Homo sapiens: one gene and its partners. The protein of the gene in region 6 purifies or fractionates together with the protein of the main gene of each other region. This does not show direct contact. Each region holds a gene or a part of one and is shown on either strand. Other genes may lie near its edges.

Region 1 (3,500 bases), on a different chromosome or scaffold from region 6:
TTGGTGCTGCTTTGGATACTGAAGCTCAGTCACTCACCAGGACTGTTTTGATTCCAACTCAGCGAGTTACTGTCGCAGGGTAGCAAAGGATAGCCTGGCTTCGTCAGTGAGTATATAAGGAGTCACATGAGTCCTTCTTGCAGCAGAATTTTCAAGGATGTGCTACTCGGGTTGTTTTTCTTTCTCAGAATATAATCCCATGAGTTTTCAGAAGATGTTTTGGGTGGTGATCTATTAATGATAAAAGGTTAGAGTTGATGTGCACTGAGTTAGGAAGGAAAGGTAATGGGCAATCTTTGTCCTACTGTAAGCTATGGAGCGGGTTATCTGACAGCACTACCAGTGAGTTACAGTACCCGTGCTTTGCTTTTCGTTGACACTTAATGGCTAGCATAGTATGAGTTAGTACTAACGCATATACTGTAGATAACAAGGAAATGGAATTTCTGGGCATTAGCATGAGAAAGACATGTATATTTTTAAGTGTTTTTAAATTACTTTGTTAGGACAAAATTAATAATAAAAATTACCCATGATCCCACTAAAACAACTATTAATATTTGAGTGATTATGCTTTCAGATTTTTTTTCTGTGTGTATGTGTGCATAGAATAATGGTAACTTGAATTGAGTCTACTATGTGCCCACAACAGCCCCATGAGGTAAATACATAGGTACTTAATTTTATTCCCCTCCACCTTTTTTTTTTTTTTGAGACAGAGTCTTGCACTGTTGCCCATGCTAGAGTGCAGTGGTGCAATCTCAGCTCACTGAAACCTCTGCCCCCCGGGTTCAAACAATTCTTGTGCCCCAGCCTCCGAAGTAGCTGGGATTACAGGTGTGCACCACCACGTCCAGCTAATTTTTTGTGTTTTTAGTAGAGAGGGGATTTCACCATGTTGGCCAGGCTTAGTCTCGAACTCCTGGCCTCAAGTGATCCACCCGCCTCAGCCTCTCAAAGTGCTGGGATTACAGGCATGACCCACCACGCCTGAACTATTCTCCATTTTGTTAGGAAGAAACAAGTCTGGAGAGAATAAGTGACTTGCCATGGTCACATAGCTGGAAAATGATGGCACACTGGGATTTAATATGGCTGGTTCCGTGGCCCATTTGTGTTGTTTTCCTTTTAACCATCATTTTAATAATTTAGACTTTGCCTATTGCTTTTTTAAAAAAATTGACTTCTAGTAAACTTTACTCTTTTTGGTGTACAGTTCTTTAGGTTTTGACATCATCTTTTTTTGTTGTTGTTAAGGAAACTTTCATATGAGTTTGTAATCTACTTATTTTATAGTTATCTTTCCTTTCAAATATATTTTACATAATCTTAATGGCTATAAAATAGCCAACACTATCTGTTATAAGGGTTTGACATGACTTAACTAATTTTAATTCTTAGAAAAATTCTATGAGGTACTTACTGTTATCCCTGTTTTTGTGGATGAGGAAACTGGGGCACAGAGAGGTTAAGTAGTTTGCCCCATCACAGAGCTGGGAAGTGGCAGAGCTGGGATTCAGACACAGGCAGGAAGCAGGCTGACTCCAGAGCCTGTACTCCTGAGTATTACGTGATGGTGTATCTTTGCACTGTATGGATGTACTGTAATTTATTTAACCAGTCCCTTATTTTAGATGTTTAGATTGTTTCCAGTTCTTTCTCATCTTAAGTAATATTTTTGTACTTAAGTCTTGTTTGCCCTTCTAATTATTTTCTTAGCGTAAATTCTCAGAGATGGAATTGCTAGATGAAAGGAGGTACATTTTTCCGGGCTATCTTGCGCTCCAGGAAAGTTGTTTACTTTTACTTTTCACTCCCGCAGAATGAATGTTCTGTGCAGTGGGCATGTTCCCTACACTTTGCCAACAATATGCATTATCTTCTTTTGACTCGTGTTAAACTAATAGGTGAAAAGCGTTACTAGTGAGGTGGTCATTTTTTCATATATTTACAGATCATCTACACTTATTTCTTTGTGAACTGCCTGTTTTTCTATGTTGCCATTTTTCTGGTGGCGGTAGGTAGGTTTAACTGTTAGTACTTGAGAGTGGTCTCTGCTAGTTGTGCCATTAGCCTTTCAGTCTAGGGAAGATTCTGTGGCCCGTGCACAGCAAAGCTATGCAGAGTTCTTTGCCCAGAGTCTCTGTCGAATGAACAGGTTGATTCCACAAGCTGCCTGCAGAAATTTGGTCTTGTTACCTCATAGTGAGTGAGTCATTAGTCTCCAATAAAAGTTCTTCCTGACCTCAACAGATGGAAATCTGGTTTAAAATTGTAGTTATGTGCCCTGTCTTAAATGTGAGTGAATTTTGTGGCCAATGACTAATAAGAAATGTCGGGAAAATGTAACATTTTCATTCTGGCATTGAAGTATTAAAACTTAATATCTCAACAACATGTTTTTGAGCATTTGGCATAGATGACAGCACTGTTGAAATGAAATAGTGTGATTAAATACCAGTCATTTTTATTGCTTTCTGTCAATGCAAATGGAAGAATTCAGATCATCTGTGGCCCAATTACTATGTATAATACAAATCCTTTTTCTTTCCCCACCGTGTTAACCCTGATCAGGATTTTATTGATATTCGTAGAGGATGTGGAGCATAACTAAGAAAGGTCCTGTTTAGGCAAAGGAGATTGAAATTATGGTGTGTTGCTCTGTGGGGTCATGTGTTAAAATGTGTGTGCAAAGGCAGCCTAGGAAGAAAAAATAAATGGAGATGATTTTTGTTTCTAGGTAGCAGCACCGCCTGCATTGTGGTGCTGGACAGAACCAGCCACCGCTTACACACAGCAAACCTGGGCGATTCAGGCTTCCTGGTTGTCAGGGGTGGTGAAGTCGTGCACCGATCAGATGAGCAGCAGCATTACTTCAACACTCCATTCCAGCTCTCAATCGCTCCCCCTGAAGCCGAGGGAGTCGTCTTGAGCGACAGGTAATCTCCCCTCTCAGCCATTAAGTGTGAGCAGGACGTGGCTCATTCATAGTCCCCTCCTGTCCCCCTTGAGTGCAGTGAGGTAGGCATTTCCATGAAAAGAATACACTGAGAATGTTCTCATCAAGAGGACCTTTTAGTTTAACTTTGAAAGATACTTTTCTGGAACTAGATAATCTAGCTAAGTGGAATTCTGATAAATACCCAATAATTTGACAAGACCATGAAAATACTATTTCAGGCTTACAGAATATCAATTTTTCATATCAACACCACATGGTACATACAGTACTTTATTAAATTGTGCTGGAGAAATGAGTCATTGTTCATGCATGCCATTGCTTGTACAAGATTTTGCATACATTGTTAGGGAAGAGCACAAACAGACATCTGCGTTATTTATTGGAGTAACTTCCTGATTCTCTAGACCTCTTACTACATGCATCAAATAGAACTTGCAGGAAATGGAGTCAAAATGGTCTTAAGTGACTGGGCACGGTGACTCACGCCTGTAATCCCAGGACTTTGGGAGGCTGAGGCGGGTGGATCACTTGAGGCCAG
Region 2 (3,500 bases), on a different chromosome or scaffold from region 6:
TCCTCACTTCCTACTTCTCTCCCGTCGCTCCAGCCCCCTGGCTCCTTGCTCTTTCCCAAAGCCATCAGATGTTTTCCCAACTAGGAGCCTCCCTTTTAGTAAGGTTTTCCGTGAATACCCTATTTAAATGGCAACTCCCTCTTTATTCCAAGTACCTCCTATCTTCTTCACTATTTTATGTTTTCCCTTTCTTAGCTCTTATCACTCTCTTTGCTGTCATGTGTATTTTATTTATTTATCTTGATTACTGGCTGTCATCTCTCCAAGAATCTGTAAACTCTTGGATCTTTTTGCATGTTTTGCTCACCATGTTATCCCTAACACTTGGAACAGTACCTGGCACATAGTAGGTACTCACTAAATATTTGCTGAATTAATGAAGTAAGAGGGAGCACAGTGTAGCTGAGTAACTGAAAGAAGATCAGTGTGGCTGAAATTCAGAGAGCAAGGACCCCTCTCTCTCATGAGGGTCTCAGAGGGGGATGACCCTCTGTCTCATGAGGGTGGCATAGCACAAGGCTGTGGGGCAGGTAGGAGCCAGGCCATGTACGGCTGGACAGAACACACCAAGGACTTTTGTTTTTATCCTAATGGGATGCTATTCAGTGTTTTAACATGGCATGTCATGAAAAGATTGGGGTTTCCAAGGTGACACTACTTGGGAAAAAGAACTAGAGCAGACAAGGAAGGAGCAGTTAAGAGGGTGTTGCAGAAGTTCAGATAAAAAGAGAAGGCAGCTTATTCTGGAGAGCTGGCAACAGAGGTAGAAAGAAGTGAACAGGCTTGACATATATTTAGGAGGTAAAAATGAGCAGAGCTTGGGTGACGGACTAGGTAAGATGGCAAATTACAGAAATGTATCAAGGATGACTCTAGATTTCAGGTCAATGCAACTGGACAGGTGATGACATCAACTGATCATTTAGAAACACCAGAGGTGAGTGAGGTTGGGCAGTGAGGTAGAGGTGGGGAAGAACACACAGTCACTTTGAGCCTTGTTGAGCTGAGTGCCTGCAAGCCATTCAGGTGGAGATGTTCAGCAGGTAGCTAAGTTGCGGGGTGTGCGTTTCAGAGCACTGGTGTCGACTAGTGATATAAACACGGGCATCACATTCTCAGAAATGGAGCTGAAGCTGTGGGTATGTGTGTGTTCAACTCCAGAAGAGCTGGGAGTAAGAGATGAGGGCTCAAAGCTAACCCTTGAGAAACTCAAATATTTACAGCTGGGGACAGAATCTGGCACTAGCAAAGGAGACAGAATGGCTCAAGAACCAAGATGGAGCTGGTAGGGTGTGATCATAGAAGTCAAGGTAAAGCAGGTGCCCAGTTGTGTCCAGTGTCACCAGGAGGACCTCTGAGATGGGAATGAGAATGGTCTGCCAGCCGAATGGCTGTATGTTACTGTTCTTCAGTAACTGTGAGTTGGTGGGATGATGGAGGTGAAAGGCAGATGACAAAAAGATGAAGACAGAGTAGAAGGTGAGAACACAGATACAATTTCTACACTTTTTAAGAAGTTTGGCTGTGAAGTAATCACCTGTGGCTGGAAGAAAAAGCAGATGGGTAGATAGAGAGAAGGGTGCTGGTTGGATAGATGTTCCCTCTTCCCCTACTTGGCCTTCGTACCTCTAGTTTCTTTCCCCGCTCCTCCATTTTCCACATTCATTCTGTATAAGGCCCCTGATAGATATAAAATACTAAAAGTAGGGCTTGGTTGCTTCCAGCTCTCCTGTTCTGCAATTCTATTTCATCCCACCACAGCCTAGCTTGCAAGCCCCCAGGACTGCCAGTTTCTGAAGTTCTTTCTGCCTTTCCCCAAGCCAACCCTTCATCCAATTCATTCCTTTCTACTCCCTGGCCACGCCATTCCTCACTAACAAAAACAACCAACCAGATAACACTAAATAAAGAGAAGATACATACATATGCCTTATTAGTTATTCTGCAGCCATTAACACTGATTTTCAGAGAAGTGTCATGACAAAGTAGACAGAGTAGAAGAAGATGCTAAAGTTAAAAAACACATGACAATATGCCATATGCGGTATGACCTTTTGCAAAGGGAAAGACTCCAAAATGTCAACAGTGTTATCTCCGGATAGGGAGACTGAAGATTATTTTAATTTTTTCTTTATGTTGTTCCATTATTTGCAACATTCTAAAGTGAACATATATAACTCTTATAAATAGAAAAAGATGAATATTATTTAAAACTCAAACAAGTAGTTAAAGTATTGATTTACTTATTGAACATCTGCCTTCCACTATAGGTGCAGAAGCAACCAAAGAAGCATAAACGGCAGTCCCTGTGCTAAAGAGCTCACTACTCTGCTGACATGTATTGTTTTGATTGACGAGTATCCATTCCCCTGGCTTTTGAAGAAGCATCTTAATTTTACTTCCAGGAAGCCATTTTTCCCCAGCTCTGGATTTCAGTGGAACTTGTAGCCTAGGCCTAAACCAGTTATTCTACTTCATTCTTTGACTAGAGGACTGGTTCAAGGATACACTCATGAACCATCAGGACAAAGAGAACAAGGGAAACCAAGGATCAGGCAGGAGTGACTGGAGAAGTCCAGCTTTCTTGATATGGTCTAAATATGGTGATGATCACCTATCTCAAAATGATCTGAGTGAGGAATGATGCCTCTCTCCTTTGAGGGTCTCAGAGTCGGATGACCCTCTCTCCTATGGGGGTCTCAGTCTCAGTCTCTCATGAGTGTCTCAGTGGGGAGTGACCCTCTCTCTCCTGAGGGTCTAAGTAAGGGATGACCCCTCTCCCATGAGGGTCTCAGAGGAAAATGACCCCTCTCTCCCATGAGGGTCTCAGTGGGGAATGACTCCTCCCTCCCATAAGGGTCTCAGTCTCAGTGAGGGATGACCCCTCTCTCTCATGAGGGTCTCAGAGGGAGATGCCCCTCTCCCCCATGTGGGTCTCAGAGGGGGATGACCCCCTCTCTCCCATGAGGGTCTCAGTGGGGAATGACCCTCTCTCCCATGAGCGTCTAAGTGAGGATGACCCCTCTCTCCCATGATGGTCTAAGTAGGGGATGACCCCTTGCTCCTATGAGGGTCTCAGAGGGGGATGATCCCTGTCTCTCACAAGGGTCTCAGTGTCGGATGCCCCTCTCTCTTATGAGGGTCTAAATCAAGGATGATCTCTCTCCCATGAGGGTCTCAGAGGGGGATATCCCCTCTCTCCCATGAGGGTCTAAGTGGGGGATGACCCCTGTCTCGCACAATGGTCTCAGAGGGGGATGCCCTCTCTCTCTCATGAGGGTCTCAGACGGGGATGCCCCCTCTCTCTCATGAGGGTCTCAGAGGGGGATGACCTCTCTCTCCTAGGAGGGTCTCAGTGGGGGATGCTTCCTCTCTCCCATGAGGGTCTAAGTGAGGATGACCCCTCTCTCCCATGATGGTCTAAGTAGGGGATGGCCCCTTGCTCCTATGAGGGTCTAAGTGGGGGATGACCCCTCTCTCATGAGGGTCTACGTGAGAGG
Region 3 (3,500 bases), on a different chromosome or scaffold from region 6:
CAGATCATTCTCTGACAGCACCTCAGCACCCTGTAGAGGGTAAGGCAGGGGGTTTCTTCCTGGGCACCCAAGGACTCAGAAACCAGCCTGGGGCTCCAGCCAGCCTCTTCTCCTCTCCCCACTACTGATGGGAAACTAGATGGGAATGAAGGGCTCAAACCTGAAATCCACAGAGTTCAGTTGGAAGGTCATCATGAATGAGAATCAGCAGCCGCTGAACAAGGGGAGGATCTCCTGAGTCCTAAGGGCAGAAAAGAATAACCCTAAACTGGGCAATCGGGTGTCCTGGACTGGCCACTGGTGAAGAGTTAGGATCCAGGGGAACTGCCTGTTTGAGGGGTGGTTACCTGAAGTTGGCTCAAGGCAGGAATGAGTGCTGGAGGCAGTGGAGGTGCCTGACGAAGGTCCAGCAGGACGGACAGCCCCAGTGTCTGTAGATCAGGCCTGCGGGAGCAGGAAGAGCCAAGGAGGCTGCTGTGTGTGTGTTTTGGGGGATAGCAGATAAGGCAAGGCAGACATACGGGGTCTGTTTTTAGTTAATAGTCCTGAGGAGAAATTAGTTGCCGGTACATTTGGGAAGAAATGGGCAAAGGGCCAAATTCTGGGGTGTGTGTACAAGAGGAAGTCACCTAGCAGTCAGGGGTCTATATTCATATGGCTACTAGGTCAAGGGATTAAGGTCTGGAAAATTAAGAATTCTGTTCTGAAATGGCGTGCATTCAATATCAGCCTGTAGTATGGTGCCTAATAGGTACTCAGTGCTCAATAAATGTTTGTTGAATCAGTGAACCAATGTCCTGATGATCTTGGTAGGGTTGGAAGAGAGTGAAAGTCAACAGTGTTGCTTTTGAAGATCAGTGAAGATATGAAGCTGGAGGTCAGGGTAAGTAAGGCCAAAGGTCAATGGCTTGAAGTCTGAAGGTTGAAGAAGTAGGTGTCCTTAGAGGTCAGAAGGTCAGTGTCCTGAGAAGAAGGAGGTGAGGGTCCTCATGAATCAGGAGGTTAGTGTCCAGGGTGCCAGGACTGGGCCTCGGTTACCTGAGCAGTGAGTGGAGGTAATGAAGAGTTGTGTTCAGCGTGTCTCGGGAGGGTGGGGGCTCCTCAGGAGGGCACGGTGGGGTAATGGTCAGCAGAGCTCGCCCACTCTGGTCCACCCCTCCTGAAGACACAAAATGGCCAGGCTGTCCTGGCTGGGAGCAGTCCATGCCTACCTCCTTTCCACCCTGCCTCCCCCAGTCCCCAAGCCCACCCAATTGCTTCTCTTTCCCAGTCCTGTTTCCCTTCACCCACTGATGCCCACTGACCCGTCAGGATGAGGAATCCAGATGCCATCAAGTCCCAAGCTACATCAGGGTGATCAGAGACGGAGACTGCAAGGGCCTCTTCTGGAATGTTGTCCCCTTTTCCTTCCTGCACAGTCTCCAGCGGAGGTGTTGGAGTGTCAGACAGGGGGCCTTCTGGGCCTGTGTGTCCTGCACAGACACAGACAGAAACATGGGACTGAAGTTAAGATGGTTCTGGTTGTTCTGCTCCCAGCCTAACCCTGCTCCTCCTCCTGCCCCCTCCCATAGGCCCGACCTGCTTTGGCCCTTGCCCCATGAGCCTCACTCCGTGTCATCTCACCTGCCATACACAGCAGGCCTGGCCCCTCCAGCTCTCTCTCTCCGGCCCCCTCTTCTGTAGGCCCACAGGCTTCAGAGAGCTGAGGCTCTTTCTCGCCTGCTGTTTTGAGCTCTTTTGGCTCAGATTCTGGCTTCCCTGAGCCTTCATATTCCTCCTTAACCAGGTGGCATTCTGGAAGCTTGTGCTCACTTGGTGAGGGCAGATTGCCAAGGGCTTCTTGGTGGCTGGCATCTTCCTTGTCCCCAGGGCTCAGTGGGGCACTGTCCCCTCCTCGGCTAAGAGCCCCTCGACCTGCAGCTCGCTTCTTTCTTCTGTTTCCTTTGCCTGTTCTCCGAGGGGTACCAGGTGGTCCTTCAGCCCCCTGGCCTCCTCCTCCTCCTCCTCTAAGCTCCCCTGGCCTCAGGGGGCAAGATCCGGAGGCTTCTCCCACAGCCTCTGCTGGGGGCTCAGACACCTCCAAGACTGCTGCCTCTGGGACAGCCTCAGCTCCTGGGGGAGACTCAGGGGAGGCTCCGGTGCTGCTCCCCTCGCCGGGTGGGCGTGCTCCATCCTGGCCCCGAGGCCCCAGGCCCTTCTGGTGCATCCACGCCCGGTGTCTCCGGTGGCGGCCCTTCCCTCCAGCGCCCTTGCGGGTGGGTACCGTCCGGACTCTGGAGAGGCCTGGGGAGCCTTCAGCATCTGTTGGGCTCCCCCTCACGGGCAGCGTCACCTCTAACAGCTCCACATACTCGCCCTCAGGTCCTTCCACAGGGGCATTGTGCCCATCCCCAGGACTCCGGGTACCCAGCGCCTCCTCAGGAAGTGGAGGGCTGGGAAGCCCTGGAGGTCCAGAGGGCAGTTCTGGGGGCAGTGTACTTGGCTGATGTCCAACCATGAGGCCCTCTTTGTGCACAAATCGTGGACAGATGAGCTCAGCCCAGGGCAGCCGCTGAATCCCAGAGGGCGCAGACAGTAGGCAGGTACTGAGGCGACCTGTTGGCCGGTCCTTGTTGATGCCTTGTAGCCACTCAGGTGTGAATAGGTAGGCACAAGCCTCATTGGGCACAGGAACCTCCTGCACCCGCCCACCCCCAGGGGCCAGACACTTGAGTGCTAGTCGGGGTGCTTGGGCAGCTGAGGGCACCACCTGCAGATAGAAGTCTCCTGGGCGCAGCAGTTGCCAGGGTAGGGCTGCTAGCTGCACCACCACCTGTTCATGCAGGCAGAGCGGCCACCCCTCATGGAAGAAGAGGAATCCACTGTATTGGGCCTGGGGAGAGAGGTGGGAGGCTGCACTCAGGCCTCTGCTGAAGAAACCAGCAGGAGAGGGCAGTTAGAATGGGCCCACCCTAGGCAGGACCAGCCTTATGCCTGGAAGGTTATACTCTCAGGAGAGCAGGAGGGGAGATTTGGGGTATTCAGGTGGCAGAGAGGAAGGGATTGGGACTGATCGGTCTCCCAGTAGTAGGAAGATTCTTCAGGAAGCTAGTTCCATGTGTGGGAGGGTAAGAACTGAATCGTTACCAAGACATGGTCAGCAGATGCCATTGTCTTGGAGAAGCTAAAGACTCTTAGGAGTCTTTATATCTGTAGAAATGAATGATCTCTGTTGACTAATGTACGGGGGAGTTAGTGTCTTGAGAAATTCATATGAGGGGGAGAAGATGTCTGGAATTGGGTCTGGAGAGTTAGGGTCTTTGGGGGTCAGTATTGGGGTCAAGATGAATTTGGGGAAGATGAATGTGTGTGTGTGTGTGTGTGTTAGCATCTGAATGGTCAGTGCCTGTGAAGGTCAAAGTTTGTGAGAGGTCAGAGAATGAAGCTTAAGTGATTCTGGAGAGATCGGTTTCAAGGGAGGCTGTATCTCTAGGTTAGTGGGGGCATTAGTCAGCCTGGCT
Region 4 (2,790 bases), on a different chromosome or scaffold from region 6:
ACAGAGGTCTCGCTCTGTCGCCCAGGTTGGAGTGCAGTGGTGCAATCTCGCTCACTGCAACCTCCACCTCCCAGGTTCAAGCGATTCTCCTGTCTCAGCTTCCTGAGTAGCTGGGACTACAGGTGTACACCACCACGCCTGGCTAATTTTTGTTTTTTTACTAGAGGTGGGGTTTTGCCATGTTGGCCAGGCTGGTCTCAAACTCCTGACCTCAGGTGATCCACTCCCCCCAGCCTCCCAAAGTGCTGGGATTACAGGCATGAGCCACCCCGCCCAGCTGAGTCATGCCTTATTTTCGTAGTATACCAAGAAATGTTCTATGGAAGTTTACGTTTTAACACCTCTTTTATACTTGGTAAAATTGCCTGTGTTTCGCTTTATTCCTTTTTTTTTTTGAGACGGACTCTTGTACTGTCACCCAGGCTGAAGTGCAGTGGCGCAATCTTGGCTCACTACAACCTCCGCCTCCTGGGTTCAAGTGATTCTTTTGCCTCAGCCTCCCAAGTAGCAGGGATTACAGGCATGTGCCACCACACCCGGCTTATTTTTGTATTTTTAGTAGAGACAGGGCTTCGCCATGTTGACCAGGCTGGTCTCAACTCCTCTGGGAATCCGCCTGTCTTGGCCTTCCAGGGTGCTGGGATTACAGGCGTGAGCCACTGGAACCTGGCCTTGTTTTGCTTTATTTTTTCTCTTACATGAAGTAAAGCGCTTTGGTCAAACACACAAAAATACTGCCTTGTACTGGTGGTTGGTTTCATTAGTGGATCACACACAGTGTTCTACTTGGCTTGTAAAATGGTGCCTTGGATAGGGTGAGTTTGGATAAGTATGTATGTATGTATGAGTTATAGCAAAATTAAGTAGATTGAATCAAGTCCATGCAAAAGCAATAAAACAGTTTTAATTTTTTAATTTTTTAAAAATTAAAACTTTAATAAAACAGTTTTTAATTTTTTGCTAGGTTCTTTTAAAAAATGATGTAACTTACATGGAAGTCTTCACAGGACTTTTTTCTTTCCTGGAACTATTGAAATGTAATTTAGGATGATTTGATCTTCCATCTCAAGTTGTCAACATGGCTGTGTCATTCTGGCTTACATATGTTTTATTTAACAAAATTCTAGTCAAGGGATAAGGGCATAATGAAGACAAGCTTCAGTTATGAAAGTACAAACTATTTGTGTGATTAATTTTTAAAAATGACATTAAGAAGCCCATTGTAAAATAATATTTGCAGTCAAATGGTTTTTCTTGCTGTAAGTCCTGTTGTAGCTATGTTTAGGGTAGTGGTTCTCATCTACCTTGGAGTGCATAAGACTTACCTAGCAGGCTTGTTTAAAAAGTTCAGATTCCTAGCTTTGTACCCAGGGATTGCCTCAGGTGGTATGGGCTGTGGTCCTGGAGTCATCACTTTTATAAATAGTGGTTCAGAGACCACAGAGAGAGACTGCTTCATCGAATGGGAAGTACCAAGGAGAAAGTACAATTCAGTATTGTCTGGAGGCAAGTGGACACTTTGTACCTGAGGTTTAGAATAGGTGGTCTCTTGCCAGTACAATCCCCAGGCGTTTTCTGTGTTCAGAAGTAGTAAGAATGCCTTTAATTCAGAGGATTATCTAAGCTCTTTAAAGCTGTTTTTCTCCATTGTCATAGTGCCTTCTCTGAAAAATGAATGTACAGGTATCCTATTTTCTAATGTAATTAGGATTTTTTAAAAGCAATTTTTGATAGTTTTTCTTTTAAAAAGTAAAATTCAGCACTGTGACTTGAACCCCCAAATCTTTCACATACAGGTGAAACATTAAGCCACAAATAAAAATAATGAACAAGAAAGAAGACAAGATCCTAATTCCTGTCATTAGTGACCTAAGTACCCCATATCAGAAACTTTGCAAAACAGATCTAGGGACAGAAGGGCTTTGAAAGACATTTTTCTTTGGGGCAAATTTCGTGTGCCAGAACTACAGTTTAAATGTTTTTATGAGCAAGGGAAGGTAGCATTGATTCCCATAGCTTTCTAATTAGATACATGCTGTCATGGATGTAAGCCTTAAAGGAGTTAATACTAATCTTGTACATACACAAATTTTCCTCAGGTTTTTTTATTTTAAAAAATGATTTGTTAAAAGTACTGTCTGCTAGACCCTTGCCTTTGAGTGGCTTTGAAACTTAATATAGTTTTTAAAAAGTGCAATGGGATGAGATTATGCTATTAGTATATTAAAAGCATGTTTCTGTTTTACTCCAATTTGTAAGATCATTTAATGGAATAAAGATCACAACACCATGTTATCTGTGTTTTCTTTCTCTGTGTTTTTAATATGGGAGGTTCTGTGAAATAGTTTGGCTTGGCAAAGTGAATAAGACTTCTGACGGGATAGTGGCAATGTGGTTTGAGTTAGCTTTCTCTGTCCTACAAAACGACACTGAACAAGTGTCTTACTAGCATAGTCCTGGAGAAGGCTCTATTGTTGGCAGGGTTGCTTAAAAGTGAGCACAAGGGCCAGGTGTCGTGGCTCACTCCTGTAATCAGCACTTTGGGAGGCTGAGGTGGGAGAAATGCTTGAGCCCAGGAATTTGAGACCAGCTTGGGCAACATATGGAGACACTTTCCACCTCTGTCTCTACAAAATAAAAGTGCATAGTGGCACCCACCTGTAGTCCTAGCTACTCGGGAGGCTGAGGCAGGATGATCACTTGAGCCCAAGAGTTTTGAGACCAGCTTGGGCAACATATGGAGACACCTTCCACCCCGTCTCTGGAAAAAACAAAAAACAAACCCAGGCA
Region 5 (3,500 bases), on a different chromosome or scaffold from region 6:
TTGATAATAGGTCACAACATTTTATTTCTCTTCAAAGCAAGGATACGTTATGTGTATTATGCAGCTTGAACAAATCACTTGTAAAATAGGTGGTCTTTTGTGTTTTATAATTACTGTATTAATTAAATTACATGTATGATTGTATTTTATAGTGAATCAAGCATTTCTTTTAAATTTTTCTTTATTTCAAAATAACTCAGAAGTACAATGATCTTGCTAAAATATCTATAAACTTATGTTTTTTTTTTTTTGAGACAGAGTCTCGCTCTGTTGCCCAGGCGGGAGCGTAGTGGTGTGATCTCAGCTCACTGCAAGCTCCGCCTCCTGGGTTCAAGTGATTGTCCTGCCTCAACCTCCCAAGTAGCTGGGACTACAGGCACCTGCCACCACACCTAGCTAATTTTTGTATTTTTAGTAGAGACAGGGTTTCACCATATTGGCCAGGCTGGTCTCAAACTCCTGACCTCGTGATCTGCCCACCTTGGCCTCCCAAAGTGCTGGGATTACAGGTGTGAGCCACTGTGCCCAGCCTGTTTTATAAATATAATTTGTAATGATTTAAATGGGGTAGATTATTCTGGATTAGTACTATATGATGAATCATGGCAAGGATAATTAACATGTATTTGAAATCCATATATATTTTTTTCTTTTGGGATAGGGTTTGGCTCTGTTACCCAGGGTGGAGTACAGTGGTACAACCAGGGCTCACTGCAGCCTCAGACTTCCAGGCTCAAGCCATCGTCCTATCTCAGCCTCCCAAGTTTCTGGGACCACAGGTGGATGCCACCACGCCCAGCTAATTTTTATATTTTTAGTAGAGATGGGATTTCGCCATGTTGCCAGGTTGGTCTTGAACTCCTGGGCTCAAGGAATCCTCCTACCTTGGCCTCCCAAGAAATCCAAATTTTTTTTAAAAAACTTTCTATTATAGAATATTTTTAACATTTACAAAAGGAGAAAGAGTAGTACAACGAATTCCCATGTACCCATCCTCCAGCTTCAACAATTGTCAACACATAGCCAGTCTTGTTTTATCTATATCCCCTCCCACTCTCAGTATACTTCAGTATATTTTAAATAATATCATTTCATCTTTAAATACCTCAGTATGTTTCTCTAAGGACTTTTTAAAAATATAGAACCAGCTGGGCGTGGTGGCACACGCTTGTAGTTTCAGCTACTCAGAAGGCTGAGGTGGCACAGCAAAGGATACAATCAACAAAGTGAAGCGAGAGTACACAGAAGGGTAGAAAATATTGGCAAACTACCCATCTGACAAGGGATTAATAACCAGAATATATAAGGAGCTCAAACAACTCTAATTAGGAAAAAGTCTAATAATCCAATCAAAAAATGGGCAAAAGATTTGAGTAGAGATTTCTCAAAAGACCCGTGCAAATGGCAAACAGGCATATGAAAAGGTGCAACATCAGAAAAATGCAAATCAAAACTACAATGAGACATCATCTCACCACAGTTAAAATGGCTTATATCCAAAAGACATGCCATAACAAATGCTGGCAAGGATGTGGAGAAAAGGGAACCCTGCACACTGTTTTTGGGAATGTAAATTAGTATAAGCTCTATGGAGAACAGTTTGGAGGTTCCCCCAAAAACTAAAAATTGAGCTAGCATGTGATCCAGTAATCCCACTGCCTGGGTATATACCCAAAAGACAGGAAATCAATATATTGAAGAGATATCTGTACTCTTACGTTTATTGCAGCACTGTATACAATAGCTAAGATTTGAAAGCAACATAAGTGTCCATCAACAGATGAATGGATAAAGAAAATGTGGTGGCTGGGCGCGGTGGCTCACGCCTGTAATCCCAGCACTTTGGGAGGACAAGGCGGGCGGATCATGAGGTCAGGAGATCGAGACCATCCTGGCTAACAAGGTGAAACTCCGTCTCTACTAAAAATACAAAAAGTTAGCCGGGCGTGGTGGCGGGCGCCTATAGTCCCAGCTACTCCTGAGGCTGAAGCAGGAGAATGGCGTGAACTCGGGAGGCGGAGCTTACAGTGAGCCGAGATCGCGCCACTGCACTCCAGCCTGGGTGACAGAGCGAGACTCCCTCTCAAAAAAAAAAAAAAAAAAAAAAAAAAAAAAAGCCTGGTGTGGTGGCTCACGCCTGTAATCCCAGCACTTTCGGAGGCCGAGGCGGGCTGATTACCTGAGGTCAGGAGTTCGAGACCAGCCTCAACATGGAGAAACCCTGTCTCTACTAAAAATACAAAATTAGCTGGGCATGGTGGTGCATGCCTGTAATCCCAGCTACTCGGGAGGCTGAGGCAGGAGAATTGTTTGAACCTGGGAGGCGGAGGTTGCAGTGAACCGAGATCGCGCCATTGCACTCCAGCCTGGGGCAACAAGAGCGAAACTGCGTCTCAAAAAAAAAAAAAAAAAAGAAAAATGTGGTATATATACACAATGGGGTAATATTCAGCCGTAAAAAAAATGATATCCTGTCATTTGCAACATGGGTGGAACTGGAGATTATTATGTTAAGTGAAATAAGCCAGGCACAGAAAGATAAACGTCGCATGCTTTCACTCATTTGTGGGAGCTAAAAATCAAAACAATTGAACTAATGGACGTAGAGAGCAGAACGATGGTTACCAGAGGCTGGGAAGGGTAACGGGCGATTGTGGGGGAGGTGGGGATGGTTAATGGGTAAAAAAAAATAAAATGAATAAGACCTACTATTTGACAGCACAACAGGGTGACTATAGTCAATAATAACTTAATTATACATTTTAAAGTAACTTAGAACGTAATTGGATTGTTTGTAACTCAAAGGATAAATGCCTGAGGGAATGGATACTCCATTTTTCATGATGTGTTTATTTTGCGTTGCATGCTTGTATCAAAATATCTCATGTACCCCATAAATATATGTACCTACTATGTACCCACAAAAAAAATTTTTTTTTTAATTTTAATAAAAATGCTGAGGTTGGAGGATCACTTGAGCCTAGATGTTCAAGTTCAGCCTGGGCAACACAGTGAGACACTGTGTCTTAAAAACATAATAAAATTGATAAATTTAAATTTTCGATATTACCTAGTACCTTGTCTGTGTTCAAATTTTGTTGATTGTCTTATAAAGGTCTTTTTATAGGCAGTTTATTTAAATCAGTTTCTGAGTAAGGTTCACAATTACTGTGTCTCTTAAATTTTTTTGTTTCTTTTTAAATAAACTTTACAGAAAAATAATGTATAAAAATTATACTAGTCATAAGCATACAGCATGATGAATTTTAATATACTGATCATTGCTATGTAACAGCACCAAGATAAGGAAACAACATCATTAGTTCTTTTCATGTTCTCTTCTAGTCCTCTCACCCAAAAAGGATCTTGACCTCTAACACCATAAATTGTTTCTATAGAAATGGAATCCTATAGTATGTACCCTTATAGTTTAGTTTGCTCAGTATGTTTTAAGGATTTATCCATTATGTTGTATGATTCCATAATTTTATTCTATTGTA
Region 6 (3,958 bases):
TGCCCTACTTGGGAGGCAGCTTAATTACACAAACTGAAGTTCTGAAGCAAATAGAGGATCCTCCAAGACTCCAGGGGCTCTGCTCTGCCAAGAGAAAGAAAGCACCTTATCCCTGGGCAGAGAATTTCATTCCAGAGGAGGGGGAGGGGCTGCTGTTGGTGGCTTTTGCAGTGGGTGGAGATAGAGTAGAGAAGGCTTGCAGGGGTGGGCTGGCAGAGGGGAAGGGCCAACAATGAAGTTACAGATGGATGAGTGGGTTTCTGCCACAAAATCAGATCAAGGAGAGGGAGGTGAAGAGGAAAATATAGGGAGGAAAAAAAAAAAGAATTGTGAGTGACCAAGGCAGTAAACCTGTAGATAATTAGAAAAGAAAATCTTGCCATGGGGGAGGTGGGCGGAGGTATACAGTTGCAGATAACTCTCTATTGTAAATAGATTGCATCTGTGCTATTTATTTTGTATTTTAGCAAATCTCTGAAATTTTCATGGTAATTAGACTTACTGCGAGGCAGTTACTTGAGAAGTGTAGACCCTCCTTTTGCTACAGAACACTCCCTAGTCCTTGGAAGGTGGGTGTCAGAGCTCTGGGACCCTAGTACATCTCTATCTGAGGGCACTTATCTGGCTTAAGTGAGTGTAGTATTAAAATTTACTTTATATTTTTGTGATGGTGGGAGATTGAATTTTGCACAGTGTGATAGGAATATTTTTATGGTACCTTTCATTTTTGCCTTTTCCTTGCCCCCTACTTATTATTATCAATATTGTTGTAATTATTTTAAACAAGTAGGAGCGAACATGGTATGCATAATTGAAACACTCCTCCTTGTTTGAAATGTTGTCTCCTCCTCTGCAGTCCTGCGGCAAAGACAGGCACACAGGCTTTCTCTGTGGATTAATTGGTCAGGAAAGACACTTTTTATATTGTCAAGTGGCACTTAAGCCATTAATTCTTGACTGTGAAACTGCTTTTCCTGGGCAATGCTCTTTAAGGAAAAACTTATTCAGTCCAGTGACTGGTGACTAAGGGAACGATGGAGCACAGGGAATTGGGCGGGATCTAGACTCCTAATAATGCCTCCTTAGCCAATGAAAAGCATTTCCTATTGAGACCCCCAAGAGTTCCCCTGGCCGTCGGCTCCAGCTCGGACTTCAGGCCTTTTTGTGTCCTGTTTGCTAAAGGCATGCGGGCTACAGCATTCAAGAGAGGGAGTCGTTAACAAAGGGAAAGAGATAAATGTAAATAAGCTCACATTTACAGAATGAGCGGTTTGCAGTAAAAAGCTGCGGCAGCCCAGAGTCTGCTACTTTAGGCTGGGCTAACCTTTCCCTGTAAAAAAAAAAAAAAAAAAAAAAAAAAAAAAATGGATAAAAATATGCACTTCCAAAGGGCGAGTTGCCCATTTACATGTTTATTAGCTAATTATCTACAGGCATCAGCACATTCTCTCATCTAGCACACTCTTTCTTGGGGTAAGTTTCTCTTTTAAAAAGATTTGATTTTGGCGTTTGGGGGTGGGGGATAGCATAACAAACTACAGTGGAAACACTGATGCTTTGAGAGTGTAAGGAAAGAAGTTAGACTTCAACTCTGAAGTACTGAACAAGGATCTTCGTGATGAATGGTAAAAAACGAGAATTTCCATTGTTTTGGCAATAATATTGTTTCCGTGGAAGACATACAGGATTTTCAGGCTGCTGTTTCATGTAAACACAGTTGTTCTAAAGAGCTAATTTAAAATCACAGTGTAGAACAATTTAGAAAGTATGTCGACTAGCTTTGTATTTCTTTGGTTTACAGTTTATTGTGCGCTAACGTGGCTTGTATTATGATGAGGTTTCTTCTAGTAAAACTATACATGACATGTCTTTGATGCTTAATTGATTTATGGAGAATGTGACATTTGCTATATTGAATAATTCATGAACTTGCCCATAAAGGAAGAATCATGTTTGAATGAAAAACTCTGTCATAAACTGAATTTGCAATTATATGTGAAATTAATTGCTGTTTGCCATACAAATGCATCAATGTGTCATCTTTAAACTCTCTTCTTGTAAATTTTAAATATTTTCAGTAAAAAGGTCTTATTGAGTTGCTAAATACAGTATTTCAGTTACCTTTTAAAAGGAAATTCAGCAATGTAATTTATCATTATTTCAGTGTGGAAAAGACCAGACAAATTCAAAGGTTAGAATATTTCAGAGCTTGGTGGGGTTATTCACTTTGCTACCTTACAAAATTATACCATCTTTCTTTATCTTGACTAACATAAAGACAATAATAATAACCTGAGATCCAGATTACCCAATGGCTTTGCAACACGTTTATTTTTCAGAACAAAATTCCCAACATCATATCCCATCAACATAGATTATAAAACCTTTTGCCTTGTCACAGATGAAAAGTTGCACTCTTGCCAAGAAGGATGAGTTCACCTGATAAACTTGATGGCATCTACATTCTAAAGTCTCTCCTGCCAATCAGAGATGGGAATGAAAGCCTTATTGGAACAATCAGGCCAGTCTTTCAGAATGTGTGCTCTCTGCAAGTTAAAGGGAGAACCAGGAAGATGCCTCACAGAAACATTCAGGCCAAGCTTAGCTAAAGCTTGATCTATTCAATTGCCTTTTGGGAAAATGCAGTGAGAATTGTTGCCCTTGCTGTGGTTTGTTCAGCGCCTAATTGTGTAGCTACCTTTTGTCTGTGTATATGGTCATCACATATAGTCTGCCCTTGGCCTTCTTGTTGGGGGAAGAACAAAACCTGTAATGTGTTTGCGAATATTAGTACTGAAAATTGGGAGCCCAATAAAAGGTTACCTACCACTGGGAATCCACCTTTACTTTAAGCGGATAAATAATCAGTTATCAGAACAATGTAACGGGTAAATGATCTAATGATTCTACATGGTTATGTCCTGAAATATGCCGATAACCTCATATTCTGAGGGGTGAAGTGACCAGGAAACAGGTGGGAAGGGTTGAGGGTTGAGACCTAAACAATTAGAGGTGATATGCCTGCTGAAATGAGCACAAGGACAGAGGATGAGGAAAATAAGGGAATTTGGAAGACTTTAGGATATTAGTGGCATCTTTCTCTGTGATTCTTAGCTTCCGGTATTAATTAATACTATTTATTTCTAATATTCAAATAAATCTAGCAATCATTTCATTAAGTCTAATAAAAATTAATGACCCTCCTTGCTTGCAGACTTTGAGGAAATAAAAAATGTTTTACAGTGGCCAATGTAAGCAGGTGAAAATAAATGATGGAAAAGAACAGCCAGTAAGGCCACCAGCATGGCACTCATTGAAGGTTGCTTTTCTGTCAGTCAAGACTGAAGATTAAAGGAGAAGAGAAACTGAGACTCAGAAATGGACTGTGACTTGCTCTCACAGAGCTCGTGATGGGGCTGGATGTGTCTATATTTAATTAATATCAGTTATAAAAACTTCTGGGTATTTGAACTTCCTAATTTGCTTGGATTTTGAATAAAAGGTTTTTTGTATAATCGTTATCAACTGTGAAAGGCATAAAATAATGTTAATGCTTCTGTTTTCCTTTACGATAAACCAATAAAATGGAATAAAATATTCATTTCATTCCAGGAAGACAGATTTCTGGAGGAGTGTGAAAATCAACTCTCCTTAATATTAAGGTGATCTCAATGTATCTTAAATTATCTAATCATTGTACTTATTTTGTTTTTTTAGATTATAGAAAAATCATTTCAGGAGAGTTGTAATACTATTTAGAAGTTTGCTTTGTTTTAGGCTACCTCTGTTTAGAAAAGGATGAGATGTAACAATAGTGTACGTTTGGAGCTAGGGGATGATTCTACTTTACAGATGGAAGCACTGTAATGGGTAAATTCTAAATGCGGTTGCTACTCCTAAGAATTCCATCGCAGAGTATTTCTGGTTTTATACAAATATTTTGTGCAGAGTTTGAATT
Region 7 (3,500 bases), on a different chromosome or scaffold from region 6:
TATGCTGTGTATCTGGGCCATTTGTTCAATGTATTTGTCTTTCCTTATGCCAGCATCCATGCTTCATTACAGCAGCTTTGTACTTAGTAAGTGCATGAGATTAGGTGTAGTATATATGAGTTCTTCCTTTTTTGAGTTATAGGATCAGAAATTGAGTCACTTCATTTGTGTTGGTCCCCATGAAAATAGTAATCTTCATTTCTTATCCCCATTTCTAGTTGAAAAATAATATAGTTGAATTTTTTTGTTCTCACCTGTGGAGAGAAAGCTAAAATTGCTGTTTTTTTTCCCCCTGGGTTCTCTTCTTTTATAAAGTTATTTTCCCGAGTGTTGTTATTCTGTAAGTTTTCCTTTTTGCCTCCTCTCCCTACTTTTTTGCCTGTCTGGAATTAAATCTCAAATTTTCTTTATAGTCTAGGTTCCCTGCCTACTATTTCTGGGAACTTTCCTTTTTTAAGCTCATCAAATGGCCCCTTCTTTAAGATTTGCTTATTCAGATCTTTTACTCTTCAGTTGTTTTGACTTGGGCTAGAAGATAAGCATAAATATCAGAATCTCTGGGAGAGACTTTTTTTCTTTTTTTTTTCTGTAAGGGACTTTTGAGGGAAGGGCAGTTTTCAAAGGAGCCACTGCCTTTTGTATCTTCATTGAATCCCTGTTTTCCTGTTACCTGCCAAATATAGACATTTCCCTGCGATCTTTGTCTCTTGCACCATTCTCATGATTTAGTTCCTACCCAGGTACTGTGTGCTGTCTACTCTCAGTCTTTCTTACGTTCTTCTTTTAGGCATTTTTACTTAAATATCTCACTGTCACTTCACACTGAACACAACAAAAACTGGCTTTTTTTTTTTTTTTTTTGACAAAGATACTCTTTTTATTCCAGTCACAAATCTTGTCAGCATTTTCTTTCAGAAAGTCTCATGTGTTTAGGCCGGGCGCAGTGGCTCACGCCTGTAATCCCAGCACTTTGGGAGGCCGAGGTGGGTGGATCATGAGGTCAGGAGATCAAGACCATCCTGGCTAACATGGTGAAACCCCATCTCTGTTAAAAATACAAAAAATTAGCCGGGCGTGGTGGTGGGTGCCTGTAGTCCCAGCTACTCGGGAGGCTGAAGCAGGAGAATGGCGTGAACCCAGGAGGCGGAGCTTGCAGTGAACCAAGATCACGCCACTGCGCTCCAGCCTGGGTGACAGAGTGAGACTTGGTCTCAAAAAAAAAAAGAAAGTCTCATGTTTAATCTCTTCTCTATTTCCATTATCAGAGCCCAGTCAGATCTTAGTACTTTATATCTAGGTCCTGACTCATCTCTAGGGCTCCAGGCAGCCTCTGGTCCATTTCATTCTGCATGTTGTGCTAGACTAGCAATGCTCTTTTTGTGCCACCCTGAACATCCCTCTCCTGCTTAAAAACATTATTTTCCTTTTCCTTGCTTTTTCATTTTTATCTTTCTTCTTTTCATCACTTTCTTCTAAATGCTCTATCTCTTATCTCCTCATTATTTCTCAAACTTTCTCCACTCACGCCCAGTTAGCTTTCTTCTTGCGCAAGTACGCTACACTTATTCACTTCTGCTCATTCTCACTTCTGGGCCCGAGCTTCTATTTCCTTTGCCAGGAATTCCCCATCCCTAACCCTCTGTGCTTATCCAGAGTTCATCTCTTTTTCTGTGTGTTGTGCTCAAGCTATGATAAACTTCAATTCCACAGACAGTGTCCTGTTTTCCACTCCCTACCTCACTTTGTTTGCCAAGATGTCCCTATAATCCCTGATTGGCCTGTTCTTTAAAAACCAAGCATAAGTGTTATCCTCCTCTGACAAGTCTCCCACTAATCTCTTCTTCTAAGAAGGAATAAGGAGTGCTCTGTATTCCCACAGCAACTTGCACTTACCTCAGTTATATGTTACATTTTCTTAATTATTTATATCTCTCCCACATTAGTCTCTGCATTTTTTGAGCATATTAAGACATTATATCTTATTTATCTTTTAATAAATATTGGTTGAATGATTGAATTAATTTGGGGGTAACTGAGGCTTTTCCTCAGTTGTCTACAGTCATTGAAAAGTGACATGAGCATAGTGGATTTAGGACAATGTTTTTAAACTTTTAGCATTGTAACCCTGTTTCAAATAAATCTTATACATTGTACATTTCAAATGGGTAGTTTTTATGGTATGCAAATTATATCTGAATAAAGTTGTTAAAAAAAAGACTGACTGAACAGTCTTTCAATGGGGCTTGCAAAGTAGTCTGGTACAACAGTCCTGTAGCCTTAGATAGCTCTTGGTAATTAAGTGAATGATAACTGCACCATTTTGTTCTGTTCTGTTTTGTTTTGTTTTGTTTCTTTTCCTTCTTCCATTGCCTGGGCATTTCCACCAGAAGGGAGGTTAAAGAAAGAAAGAGAATGATTCAGTTAGCAACACTTAGCCACTTAGTAAACAGCCACTCTTAAGTTTTCACGAGTTTTAGAGTTGAAAAGAATATTTTTCCCAAAAAGAAGTTTGTGAGTTTTGGAATTCCTTCATGAACAGTTAGTTTATATTTGCCTGTAGCTTTCTTGTTTCACCAGAGTATTCTGCGGGTGTTAAATGTGATTTTCCTCAAAGTCATTTAGACATATTTAAAGGTTAGATAATTTTATTCTTCTCAAGAGAATGTCTTTCTTAAAGAATATAATGCTAATGTTAAATTTTAGTCAGATTAAAATAAAATTTAGTTGGGAAGTTTTAGACATTAGTTTACTGAGTACTAAAACAATATTACATATTGTGGAAACCAAAATTGAAACAGAAAGCTTGCTGTCTACCCTTTAGGAGCTTACAGTCTATTTGGGGTTGATATGATTAATGATTTTTAATTTCTTTTTTTTTTAATAGGTCACTACTGTTTTTAATGAAGCCACATCATCTTTCGATTTAAATCCTCAAGTGTTACAACAGTTAGATAGTAAACGACAGCAGGTCCAAATGACAGTTACAGAGACCAACCAGGAGTGGCAAGTGTTGCAGTTGAGAGTGCATACTTTTGCTGCCTGTGCAGTTGTGAGCTTGCAGCAGCTTCCGGAGAAATTAAATCCTATCATAAAACCATTAATGGAGACAATTAAAAAAGAAGAGAATACACTAGTGCAAAACTATGCAGCTCAGTGCATAGCTAAACTCCTTCAGCAGTGCACAACAAGGACGCCCTGTCCCAATTCAAAAATTATTAAAAACCTCTGTAGCTCACTTTGTGTGGACCCATATCTAACTCCTTGTGTCACATGTCCAGTACCAACACAAAGTGGCCAGGAAAATTCTAAAGGTATATACCTAAACTTTTATTTGGGGTAGAGAAATAACCTTTTAAATTTGTTTTTGTTTACTTATGGGTATAATTTAAGCACAAATCCAGTTCATGTTAGTGTTTTTTCCCATTCTGAGAGAAAAGGCTTGATTATAACAAAACTCTTTGTTACATGAATTTGCACATAATACTTACCAGTCACAACCC

The links.
Region 1: the proteins of LPAR4 (region 6) and PPTC7 purify together in Homo sapiens (affinity purification with mass spectrometry; 2 studies listed by BioGRID and IntAct, with this or other methods). This does not show direct contact.
Region 2: the proteins of LPAR4 (region 6) and ARFGEF3 purify together in Homo sapiens (affinity purification with mass spectrometry; 2 studies listed by BioGRID and IntAct, with this or other methods). This does not show direct contact.
Region 3: the proteins of LPAR4 (region 6) and ARHGEF40 purify together in Homo sapiens (affinity purification with mass spectrometry; 2 studies listed by BioGRID and IntAct, with this or other methods). This does not show direct contact.
Region 4: the proteins of LPAR4 (region 6) and ATL3 purify together in Homo sapiens (affinity purification with mass spectrometry; 2 studies listed by BioGRID and IntAct, with this or other methods). This does not show direct contact.
Region 5: the proteins of LPAR4 (region 6) and FASTKD1 purify together in Homo sapiens (affinity purification with mass spectrometry; 2 studies listed by BioGRID and IntAct, with this or other methods). This does not show direct contact.
Region 7: the proteins of LPAR4 (region 6) and BTAF1 purify together in Homo sapiens (affinity purification with mass spectrometry; 2 studies listed by BioGRID and IntAct, with this or other methods). This does not show direct contact.

Annotation. Positions count from the first base shown.
Region 1 is NC_000012.12:110,545,319-110,548,818, reverse strand, and holds part of PPTC7 (protein phosphatase PTC7 homolog), read left to right. Parts: intron 1-2,740; coding exon 2,741-2,939; intron 2,940-3,500. UniProt on the Homo sapiens protein: Protein phosphatase that plays an essential role in mitochondrial metabolism and biogenesis. Positively regulates biosynthesis of the ubiquinone, coenzyme Q. Dephosphorylates the ubiquinone biosynthesis protein COQ7 which is likely to lead to its activation.
Region 2 is NC_000006.12:138,164,939-138,168,438, reverse strand, and holds part of ARFGEF3 (brefeldin A-inhibited guanine nucleotide-exchange protein 3), read right to left. Parts: intron 1-3,500. UniProt on the Homo sapiens protein: Participates in the regulation of systemic glucose homeostasis, where it negatively regulates insulin granule biogenesis in pancreatic islet beta cells. Also regulates glucagon granule production in pancreatic alpha cells.
Region 3 is NC_000014.9:21,073,304-21,076,803, reverse strand, and holds part of ARHGEF40 (rho guanine nucleotide exchange factor 40), read right to left. Parts: intron 2,873-3,500; coding exon 1,624-2,872; intron 1,473-1,623; coding exon 1,305-1,472; intron 1,182-1,304; exon of another isoform or gene 1,160-1,181; coding exon 1,039-1,159; intron 445-1,038; coding exon 348-444; intron 269-347; exon of another isoform or gene 242-268; coding exon 161-241; intron 31-160; coding exon 1-30. UniProt on the Homo sapiens protein: May act as a guanine nucleotide exchange factor (GEF).
Region 4 is NC_000011.10:63,623,587-63,626,376, reverse strand, and holds the end of ATL3 (atlastin-3), read left to right. Parts: 3' UTR 1-2,290; downstream 2,291-2,790. UniProt on the Homo sapiens protein: Atlastin-3 (ATL3) is a membrane-anchored GTPase that mediates the GTP-dependent fusion of endoplasmic reticulum (ER) membranes, maintaining the continuous ER network. It facilitates the formation of three-way junctions where ER tubules intersect.
Region 5 is NC_000002.12:169,563,866-169,567,365, reverse strand, and holds part of FASTKD1 (FAST kinase domain-containing protein 1, mitochondrial), read left to right. Parts: intron 1-3,500. UniProt on the Homo sapiens protein: Involved in the down-regulation of mitochondrial MT-ND3 mRNA levels which leads to decreased respiratory complex I abundance and activity.
Region 6 is NC_000023.11:78,746,562-78,750,519, forward strand, and holds the start of LPAR4 (lysophosphatidic acid receptor 4), read left to right. Parts: upstream 1-1,158; 5' UTR 1,159-1,473; exon of another isoform or gene 1,474-1,625; intron 1,626-2,339; exon of another isoform or gene 2,340-3,612; 5' UTR 3,613-3,662; exon of another isoform or gene 3,663-3,958. UniProt on the Homo sapiens protein: Receptor for lysophosphatidic acid (LPA), a mediator of diverse cellular activities. Transduces a signal by increasing the intracellular calcium ions and by stimulating adenylyl cyclase activity.
Region 7 is NC_000010.11:91,986,270-91,989,769, forward strand, and holds part of BTAF1 (TATA-binding protein-associated factor 172), read left to right. Parts: intron 1-2,884; coding exon 2,885-3,311; intron 3,312-3,500. UniProt on the Homo sapiens protein: Regulates transcription in association with TATA binding protein (TBP). Removes TBP from the TATA box in an ATP-dependent manner.